Homo sapiens: one gene and its partner. The protein of the gene in region 1 purifies or fractionates together with the protein of each later gene. This does not show direct contact. Each region holds a gene or a part of one and is shown in the gene's direction. Other genes may lie near its edges.

Region 1 (5,321 bases):
TACAATTTCTATCATTTTTTCCTGCAGGTGAAGACCTGGTTCCAGAACCAGAGAATGAAATCTAAGAGGTGGCAGAAAAACAACTGGCCGAAGAATAGCAATGGTGTGACGCAGGTAACAGGAAACTTCATTCTGTTCTTTCCTTTCAGTGATCTTTCAATCTTGTCCATCCCTGAAACACACAACTCCAGTCACAGACAGTTCTGGTTGTCCTTGTACCCTTTCTGTTAATCCCTCCTTCTCTTTCAGAAGGCCTCAGCACCTACCTACCCCAGCCTTTACTCTTCCTACCACCAGGGATGCCTGGTGAACCCGACTGGGAACCTTCCAATGTGGAGCAACCAGACCTGGAACAATTCAACCTGGAGCAACCAGACCCAGAACATCCAGTCCTGGAGCAACCACTCCTGGAACACTCAGACCTGGTGCACCCAATCCTGGAACAATCAGGCCTGGAACAGTCCCTTCTATAACTGTGGAGAGGAATCTCTGCAGTCCTGCATGCAGTTCCAGCCAAATTCTCCTGCCAGTGACTTGGAGGCTGCCTTGGAAGCTGCTGGGGAAGGCCTTAATGTAATACAGCAGACCACTAGGTATTTTAGTACTCCACAAACCATGGATTTATTCCTAAACTACTCCATGAACATGCAACCTGAAGACGTGTGAAGATGAGTGAAACTGATATTACTCAATTTCAGTCTGGACACTGGCTGAATCCTTCCTCTCCCCTCCTCCCATCCCTCATAGGATTTTTCTTGTTTGGAAACCACGTGTTCTGGTTTCCATGATGCCCATCCAGTCAATCTCATGGAGGGTGGAGTATGGTTGGAGCCTAATCAGCGAGGTTTCTTTTTTTTTTTTTTTCCTATTGGATCTTCCTGGAGAAAATACTTTTTTTTTTTTTTTTTTTGAAACGGAGTCTTGCTCTGTCGCCCAGGCTGGAGTGCAGTGGCGCGGTCTTGGCTCACTGCAAGCTCCGTCTCCCGGGTTCACGCCATTCTCCTGCCTCAGCCTCCCGAGCAGCTGGGACTACAGGCGCCCGCCACCTCGCCCGGCTAATATTTTGTATTTTTAGTAGAGACGGGGTTTCACTGTGTTAGCCAGGATGGTCTCGATCTCCTGACCTTGTGATCCACCCGCCTCGGCCTCCCTAACAGCTGGGATTTACAGGCGTGAGCCACCGCGCCCTGCCTAGAAAAGACATTTTAATAACCTTGGCTGCCGTCTCTGGCTATAGATAAGTAGATCTAATACTAGTTTGGATATCTTTAGGGTTTAGAATCTAACCTCAAGAATAAGAAATACAAGTACAAATTGGTGATGAAGATGTATTCGTATTGTTTGGGATTGGGAGGCTTTGCTTATTTTTTAAAAACTATTGAGGTAAAGGGTTAAGCTGTAACATACTTAATTGATTTCTTACCGTTTTTGGCTCTGTTTTGCTATATCCCCTAATTTGTTGGTTGTGCTAATCTTTGTAGAAAGAGGTCTCGTATTTGCTGCATCGTAATGACATGAGTACTGCTTTAGTTGGTTTAAGTTCAAATGAATGAAACAACTATTTTTCCTTTAGTTGATTTTACCCTGATTTCACCGAGTGTTTCAATGAGTAAATATACAGCTTAAACATAAATCTTTGTTAAATTTTTGGTTGGGGTGGAGAAGGAAATTAGCTGAGGACACTGCTATCTTAGAAATGCATAGAAATAGCTGAGCGTGGTGGCCTATGCCTGTAGTCCCAGCTATTTGGGAGGCTGAGGCAGGAGAATCGCTTGAACCTGGTAGGTGGAGGTTGTAGTGAGCCAATATCACACCACTGCACTCCAGCTTGGGCGACAAGAGCAAAACTCCCATCTCAAAAATAAATAAATAAATAAGTAAATAAATGAATAATAAATAAATATGCCAGTTTTAGAATGAATGAATAATAAATATGCCAGTTTTAGAAAAAAGGGCACTTACGTGCATTGTACATGTGCATCTACAAATGTAATGGGTTATTTCCGTGTATGAATCTGTAATTGATGCTAACATTTAAAGTTTCATCAGAGGCCTATATGTAAGTAAATTCTAAGGCTAGTTGAAACAGATTTATGTTCTCACCTTAAGAGCAGCTACGCAGGCATCTGTGAATTATACTAATAATCCTTTACTGTCCTTTTCCCATCTTGTGCCTGCCCTAAATGTATCTGATCTGAGAGCACGTCCCTTCACTCTGAAGCAGCATGATGCAGGTTATCAGAGTGGTTTTTTCCAGTCTTTTCTCTCATTATTTCCCCAATTGTCCAATGTTACTAAGACTATCCAGTCTAATTCCAAGTGTTTTTTTTTTGTTTTATTTTGTTTTTTTTTAAGACTGGAGTCTTACTCTGTTGCCCAGGCTGGAGTGTAGTGGAGCGATCTCGGCTCACCGCAACCTCCGCCTCCCGAGTTCAAGTGATTCTCCTGCCTCAGCCTCCCAAGTAGCTGGGACTACAGGGGTGAGCCACCATGCCCAGCTAATTGTATTTTTAGTAGAGACAGGGTTTCACTATGTTGGCCAGGCTGGTCTTGAACTCCTGACCTCATGATCCACCAGCCTTGGCCTCCCAAAGTGTTGGGATTACAGGCGTGAGCCACTGCGCCTGGCCTATCGTTTGTTTTTTTAGACAGTCTCTCTCTATTGCCCAGGCTGGAGTGCAGTGGCACAATCTTGGCTCACTGCAACCTCCGCCTCCTGGGTTCGAGCAATTCTCCTGCGTCAGCCTCCTAAGTAGCTGGGATTACAGGCACCCAACATTACACCCGGCTAATTTTTGGTATTTTTAGTAGAGATGGGGTTTCACCATGTTGGCCAGCCTGGTCTCGAACTCCTGACCTCAGGTGATCCACCTGACTCGGCCTCCCAAAGTGGTGGGATTATAGGTGTGAGCCACCGTGTCTGGGCAATTTTTTTTTTTTTTTTTGAGATGGAACTTCACTTTTGTTACTCAGGCTGGAGCACAATGATGCAATCTCTACTCACTGCAACCTGCACCTCCCAGGTTCAAGTGATTCTCTTGCCTCAGCCTTTCGAGTGGCTGGTATTACAGGGATTTGCCACTATGCCCAGCTAATTCTTTGTATTTAGTAGAGATGGGGTTTCACCGTATTGACCAGGCTGGTCTCGAACTCCTGACCTCAGGTAATCCACCCTCCTCGGTCTCCCAAAGTGCTAGGATTACAGGCATGAGCCACAGTGCCCAGCCTTCTTTTTTATTTTTTTAAGACGGGCTTATTCTGCTGCTCAGACTGGGGCTTAGTGGCACCATTTCACCTCACTGTAGCCTCGACTTCCCGGATTCAAGCAATCCTCCTGCCTGAGTCTCTCAAATAGCCCAGACTATAGGTGCACACCACCATGCCAGCTAACTTTTGTGTTTTTAGGAGAGACGGGGTTTCCCCATGTTGGCCTGGCTAGTCTCAAACTCCTGAGCTCAAGCAGTCTACCAGCCTTGGCCTCCCGAAGTGCTGAGATTACAGGCATGAGTCACCAGCCTAGCCCTGTATTATGTTTTCTGAACTTTTTTTTTTTTAATCACCCAGTATTAATCTTCAACCTCTTGGCAGGTAAGAATTTAGAGATCTATTTGGAATAATCTTTAAAGTAACAATAATAACTACAGTCAAAAGCAGTAAGATTAGTGGGCCAGGTGCCGTGGCTCACACCTGTAATCCCAGCACTTCGGGAGACCAAGGCAGGTGGATCACCTGAGGTCAGGAGTTCAAGTTTAGCATGGCCAATATGGCGAAACCCTGTCTCTACTAAAAATACAGAAATTTGCCAGAGGTCTTGGTTTGCGCCTGTAATCTCAGCTACTTGGAAGGCGGAGGCAGGATAATCACTTGAACCCGGGAGGTTGCAGTGACCCCAGATAATGCCACCCCACTCCAGCCTGGGCGACAGAGCGTCACTGTCTCAAAAATAAACAAAAATAATAGGAGATTAGGCAAAAAGGATAGTACAAGGCTCTCTGTTTAACATTTCTTCCTTTCTCTAGAAAATTTTCCTTTCTTTTCCCAAAAGGAGGTGTGTGTTACTTCCAATGCTATATTTTAGTAGCTTTACCATATTTTAGTTTTTAAAATTCATTATTTTGATTTCTCAGCTTTCATTTTCATTTCAGTTTGTACCTGAAGGAGAGAAGCATGGATTGAATTTGCCTGGGTTTTCCGAATTTCATAATATAAATTTAAAACTCAGAAGTGGGAGGAATACAGGCCTTGATTAGTGAATTTCAAGCTCAGTTCTCGGGGTGAAGGACAAGGTTAATTCTACTCTGAGTAATTCTACCGTTCAGAAAACCTGGTGTGTCTACAGGAAAAAATACAGGCTGTGACTACAAACCTAAAAGTAAAGGCAAACAACTGCCAGACAGAGGCAGGAAAGTGGGGGAGAGCCCTTGGTAAATATTGCATGCCTCCTGGGGCCCCCATGGGCTTTGACTCAAGGGGGAGATGAAGGGAATTTGTTAAAGAAAGAAGTCACTGGGACAGACAAAAGCTTCCGGCACAGGAAGTTAGTTCGACTAAGGATACCGAAATGTAGGAATTTGAATGGGTTCCTGGGTGTGAGGTTGAAGTGAAACTTGATTGAAAAGAAGCTGCTGGTGGTGAGTCTCTCCTTAAGCTATTCCTGGCTTCTGGGTAGTTGGTGTAAACTCTGTGGTCCTTGAATAAAGTGTGCTTGAGAATTTTAGAAGGTTAAGCATCTGAGAAATTACTTCAATGCAGTGGTAGCACTACCTCTGATGATACTACCAAGCAAACTATTAAGAAACAGAAAAGCTCACAGATCAAATTAAGATGCTAGAATCGTATTAAATCAATTAAATACATGGAACAAAACAGGCAAAAAGATGGGATACATTAATCCATTTAGGATAAGGTGCATGTGGAGTAGAAAGGGTAGCAGTGTTTACATGTCCTCTGATAACACTGGCGTAGTCACAAGAGCTAAGGACAAGAACCAAGGGTGAGAATTTGAGATTCAATTAGGGCCAGGGATCTGCAGAACAGATGTACCTGGAACATGGGTGTCAATGTGCTCTTATCAGAGAGACAAAGGGGCAGTTATTCCTGGCCACGAAAGTAGTTCTTGGCTCATTGAGCAGCTATGAAATCTATTTGCAGGCCAGGCATGGTGTCTCAAGCTTATAATCTTAACACTTTGGGAGGCCAAGGTGGGTGGATCACCTGAGGACAGGAGTTCAAGACCAGCCTGGCCAACGTGGCGAAACCCCGTCTCCTAAATAAAAAGTAGCCGGGCATGATGGCAGGGGCCTATAATCCCGGCTACTCAG
Region 2 (4,410 bases), on another chromosome or scaffold:
AACTATTGTAGTTTCTACTCTGTTAGTACCTCTGTATGTGAGCTAATAGCAACTAACTCAAGGAAGAGGAACCTGACTTTAATGCCTGCTGTGTGTTGGGCCTGTGCCAGACACTTTATATTTACTCCGAAGCAACACAGTGCAGCAGGTGTTACTCCCATCTGATCAGTAAGAAACCCAAGATTCCAATGGCTTAAGGTAGCTTGTTTGAAATATCACAGCCAGTATACGATGGAATTGCACTACTCAACTAGGTCTCTTTTACTTAAGTCTGTGCTCTTCCTATTAGACCGGTAGTTTTTCAAACTTACGTAGGAGCTTTAGGGCTTCTGAGTTAAGTTCCTTGAAGATTTCTGAACAAGCAGTAGGAAGTTTCCCGATTTTTCCTTTCTTTTTCCTCTCCCAACAACTGGTGCAGCTCTACTTTTTAAAATATATATCAGATTCCAAATGGGATTTTCATTTGAAGAAGGGTCTATGCCATCTTTAGAAAAAAACAAAAAAATGGAAAACCTTTGAAAAGTTAAGCAGTTTTAACTCATAAATATTGATGGATTAGTTATTTGTGAAAGTCACTTGATTGAATACCTCATTTTTCAATGATGCCATATAAGCAGGCTGCTAAGTCTTTTTTCTGGTTGTTGTTGTTGGAGACAGGGTCTCACCCAGGATTCTCTACTTAAATATGACTGTTGTTAATTGAGTGCTACAATTAAATTAGCCATTGCCATCTTTAATTGGAGTGCAGCGGCACAGTCTTGGCTCACTGCAACCTCCGCCTCCCGGGTTCAATTGATTCTCATGCCTCAGTTTCCCCAGTAGCTGGGACTACAGACATGAGCCACCACACCCGGCTAATTTTTATATTTTTAGTCAAGATGGGGTTTTGCCATGTTGGCCAGGCTGGTCACAAACTCCTGACCTCAGGTGATCCGCCCACCTCAGCCTCCCAAAGTGCTGGCATTACAGGCGTGAGTTACTGTGCCCAGCCTAAGTCTTTTATTTTTAACTCAAGCTACTAAACATGCTTCTTTCCAAAAGTCTGGTTTCAAAAACTAAAGGTTCATGGAATGAATCTTTTATTCCTAATTCAGCTAGCTGCATTTCAGGCACAAAGTGGGTGTTCAGTGTGTGCTTGTTGAATTAATTAATATCTAGTGGGGATTTTTTTTTAGTACCAGATAAAAGTAGAGAAATAGGTTATTTTGAAAGAATGAATATCTTTTTATCTATAGTTAAAATATAATGGTGATAAATGTATTTTATAGGTAATACAGATTGCCTTTCCGGATAAAAATTACATAAATCTAATTGCCAATTTTCAATGTTTTTTCAAGATTTTTATTGAAGGATGGTCAGCTGTGGCTATGTGCTCCTCAGGCAAAACAAATATGGAAATGCTTAGCTGAGAATGCAGTTTACCTTTGTGATCGTGAAGCCTGTTTTAAGTGGTATTCCAAGTTGATGGGGGATGAACCAGACTTAGATCCTGATATTAATAAGGACTTCTTTGAAAGTAATGTGCTTCAGCTTGATCCTTCTCTGTTAACTGAAAATGGAATGAAGTGTTTTGAGCGATTCTTCAAAGCTGTGAATTGTCGAGAAGGAAAACTAGTAGCAAAAAGGAGAGCCTATATGATGGATGACTTGGAGTTAATAGGATTAGATTACCTTTGGAGGGTAAGTCAAAAGTAGGAACTCTGTAAATGGTGTCTGATGTACTTTTTCATGTACGTAAGGAATTGTAATTTTGCATATAAATTGTGTATTTTACTCTGATGTTTGTCTCAGGAATTTGGTGTAGTTAGGAATTGTTCATTTTTATTATGTCACCTGTCAGTGGGCTTTTTCTTCTCTCTTCCTCTCCCTCCTCCTGCCACTGATGTTCCTTTTGTCTTAGCTTAGTATCTGTGTATTCCATAGATGTGCACTAAACATACAAATCTTTCATTCCTCCCCCGTGGATATTAATGTTCCTTCCCGAGTTTTCATTCAGTGTCGATCTGTTTCCTCCTCTTCAATGTTTAACACTAAAATAGAGGACAGAAGAGAGGACTTGTGTTTAGTATAGATTATGAGTATATGCTTTATTGGCACTGTTTACCTTGTGATATTTTTAAATACCTGGGGGAATAAAATACTATCTTTTTAAGGCTAATCTATTTTTATAGTACTACTCTATTATGCCTATCTTTAATCTGACCTGTTATACAGCAGTTTATATTGTTTGGATGTCTCACATATTTTCCTGCAAACCATAGATAAAGATGTTTATTGTGGCATTTGAGTATTTAAAAGCTTTTAATTAAGTATGTGGTTTTCAACATTGTTTTAACAGCAGAAACACATCTTAAAACTCAAAATTTGCACCACACTACAAAAGTAAACTGAATTGAACAAGGAAAATATGTTTTCTTACTTGGTCTCCCCATGCTTATCCCCTTTCCCCTCCCCAACCCTTTTATAGGGGCCAACACTGAAACACTTCCTCAAAGTCCCCTAGGGTTCTGAACATAGTTTGGAAACCACTAATGTAATTAGATGAGTGATAAAGATTTATAGAAACTGGGGGTAGAGTAGTCCTTTATGCTAAACTGTGTTTCATGTAATCTCTTATTTCCTGTCAACTAATTTGAATTTCTTCTTGAGTGTCTCACTTGGTTATCAAGATATTAAATTATAGGGTTAAATAATAGTGGTCAAAGCGTATTTTATTTTTACAAAAATGTACCTTTCATTCTTAAATTATTCAGAGACTTTCATTTTGCATTTATTACCCTTTCTTTTGGTCTGTGCTTCTCACTTAATTTTACTTGATTATCAAAGTCAACTTACCATTAAATCATTGAATAGTGTGTTTAAGATAACTGAGGATATGGTTTGAATTTAAATGCCCAACAAAAATATATGTTGAAAGGGATGAATACTTTTATCATTTTGAAACCAGGTCGTGATTCAGAGTAATGATGATATTGCCAGCAGAGCTATAGATCTCCTCAAAGAGATATACACGAACCTTGGTCCAAGACTACAAGTCAATCAGGTGAGGATTGATGTGCATTAAAACTTCCATATATAATTCTTTCGGCCCCCATTTCTCTTATACAAAAGAGAAAAAATATTATCTAAATGAATCTTGCCTTGTTAGTTGTCTTGAAGTGATTGGGTTATTTTTAATATAACTATTTATTAGATGTTGAAATGGCAAAGAAAGTCTATGTGAATTCATTTTGATGCTAACACCTAATCCTGAAGTTCACTTTTGACTAATTTATGTTTGTTAACTTATGTAATGCTAGCTTCCTTTTAATAAACATACATTTTATTATTGTATGGATTCTCTACTTAAATATGACTGTTGTTAATTGAGTGCTACAATTAAATCAGCCATTGCCATCTTTAATTGGATTAATATTTGGTTTTTACATTTTAAAGCAATTTTAACTGTGTTTATTTGGCCTGATATTTGTAGGTGGTGATCCATGAAGACTTCATTCAGTCTTGTTTTGATCGTCTGAAGGCTTCCTATGACACATTGTGTGTTTTGGATGGTGACAAAGACAGTGTTAATTGTGCAAGACAGGAAGCTGTTCGAATGGTTCGAGTATTAACTGTTTTAAGGGAATATATAAATGAATGTGACAGTGATTATCATGAGGAAAGAACAATTCTCCCTATGTCGAGGTTTGTGAATAACTAATCTATTGGTGCTAATTCTTAATTATTTGATATTTTCCTAGCCATTTGGTAAAAGGAGAGCAGAAATTTTTCTCGTTTGAAAATTGTTGTCTTTGCCCATTAAAAACATTTTCATTTCATCTAATTTTTTTTAATAACCTCCCCCACTCTCCCATCTGGTTTTGTTTTGGTTTTTTGGGTGAGGCATTCTTAAGTTGTTTTCTAGTTTTCTTTTTGTCTTTGACATTATTACTCATTAAGTGTTGCAGTGGCATTTTGCAGTTGAAGTGTTTTTGTTTATTTGTTTATTTTGAGAAAAGGTCTTATTCTGTCACCCAGGCTGGAATGCCGAGGTGTAATCATGGCTCACTGCGGGCTCAAGCGACCTTTCCACCTCAGCCTCCCAGGTAGCTGGGGCTACAGGCACAGGCTACCACACCTGGCTAATTTTTTTTGACTTTTTGTGGAGGTGGGGTTTCACTACATTGCCCAGGCTGGTTTCAAACTCCTACGCTCAAGCAAATCCTCCTGCTTTGGCCTCCCAAAGTGCTGGGATTATAGGCGTGAGCTACAGTGCCTGGCCTGTAAAGAGCTCTTAAAAGCTGCCTTGCATGGCATATAACAAATATTTTCAAATGGTGTTTATAGTTTTGGGATGTTTTGTGTAGTCAATGCCATCATTTTTTTTAAAGAGTTTTGTTTATTAATCATGAAATTATATACAGTTGCTTC

The links.
Region 2: the proteins of NANOG (region 1) and USP9X purify together in Homo sapiens (affinity purification with western blotting; 2 studies listed by BioGRID, with this or other methods). This does not show direct contact.

Annotation. Positions count from the first base shown.
Region 1 is NC_000012.12:7,794,430-7,799,750, forward strand, and holds the end of NANOG (homeobox protein NANOG), read left to right. Parts: intron 1-27; coding exon 28-114; intron 115-249; coding exon 250-666; 3' UTR 667-4,717; downstream 4,718-5,321. UniProt on the Homo sapiens protein: Transcription regulator involved in inner cell mass and embryonic stem (ES) cells proliferation and self-renewal. Imposes pluripotency on ES cells and prevents their differentiation towards extraembryonic endoderm and trophectoderm lineages.
Region 2 is NC_000023.11:41,164,535-41,168,944, forward strand, and holds part of USP9X (ubiquitin carboxyl-terminal hydrolase 9X), read left to right. Parts: intron 1-1,337; coding exon 1,338-1,680; intron 1,681-2,947; coding exon 2,948-3,043; intron 3,044-3,472; coding exon 3,473-3,684; intron 3,685-4,410.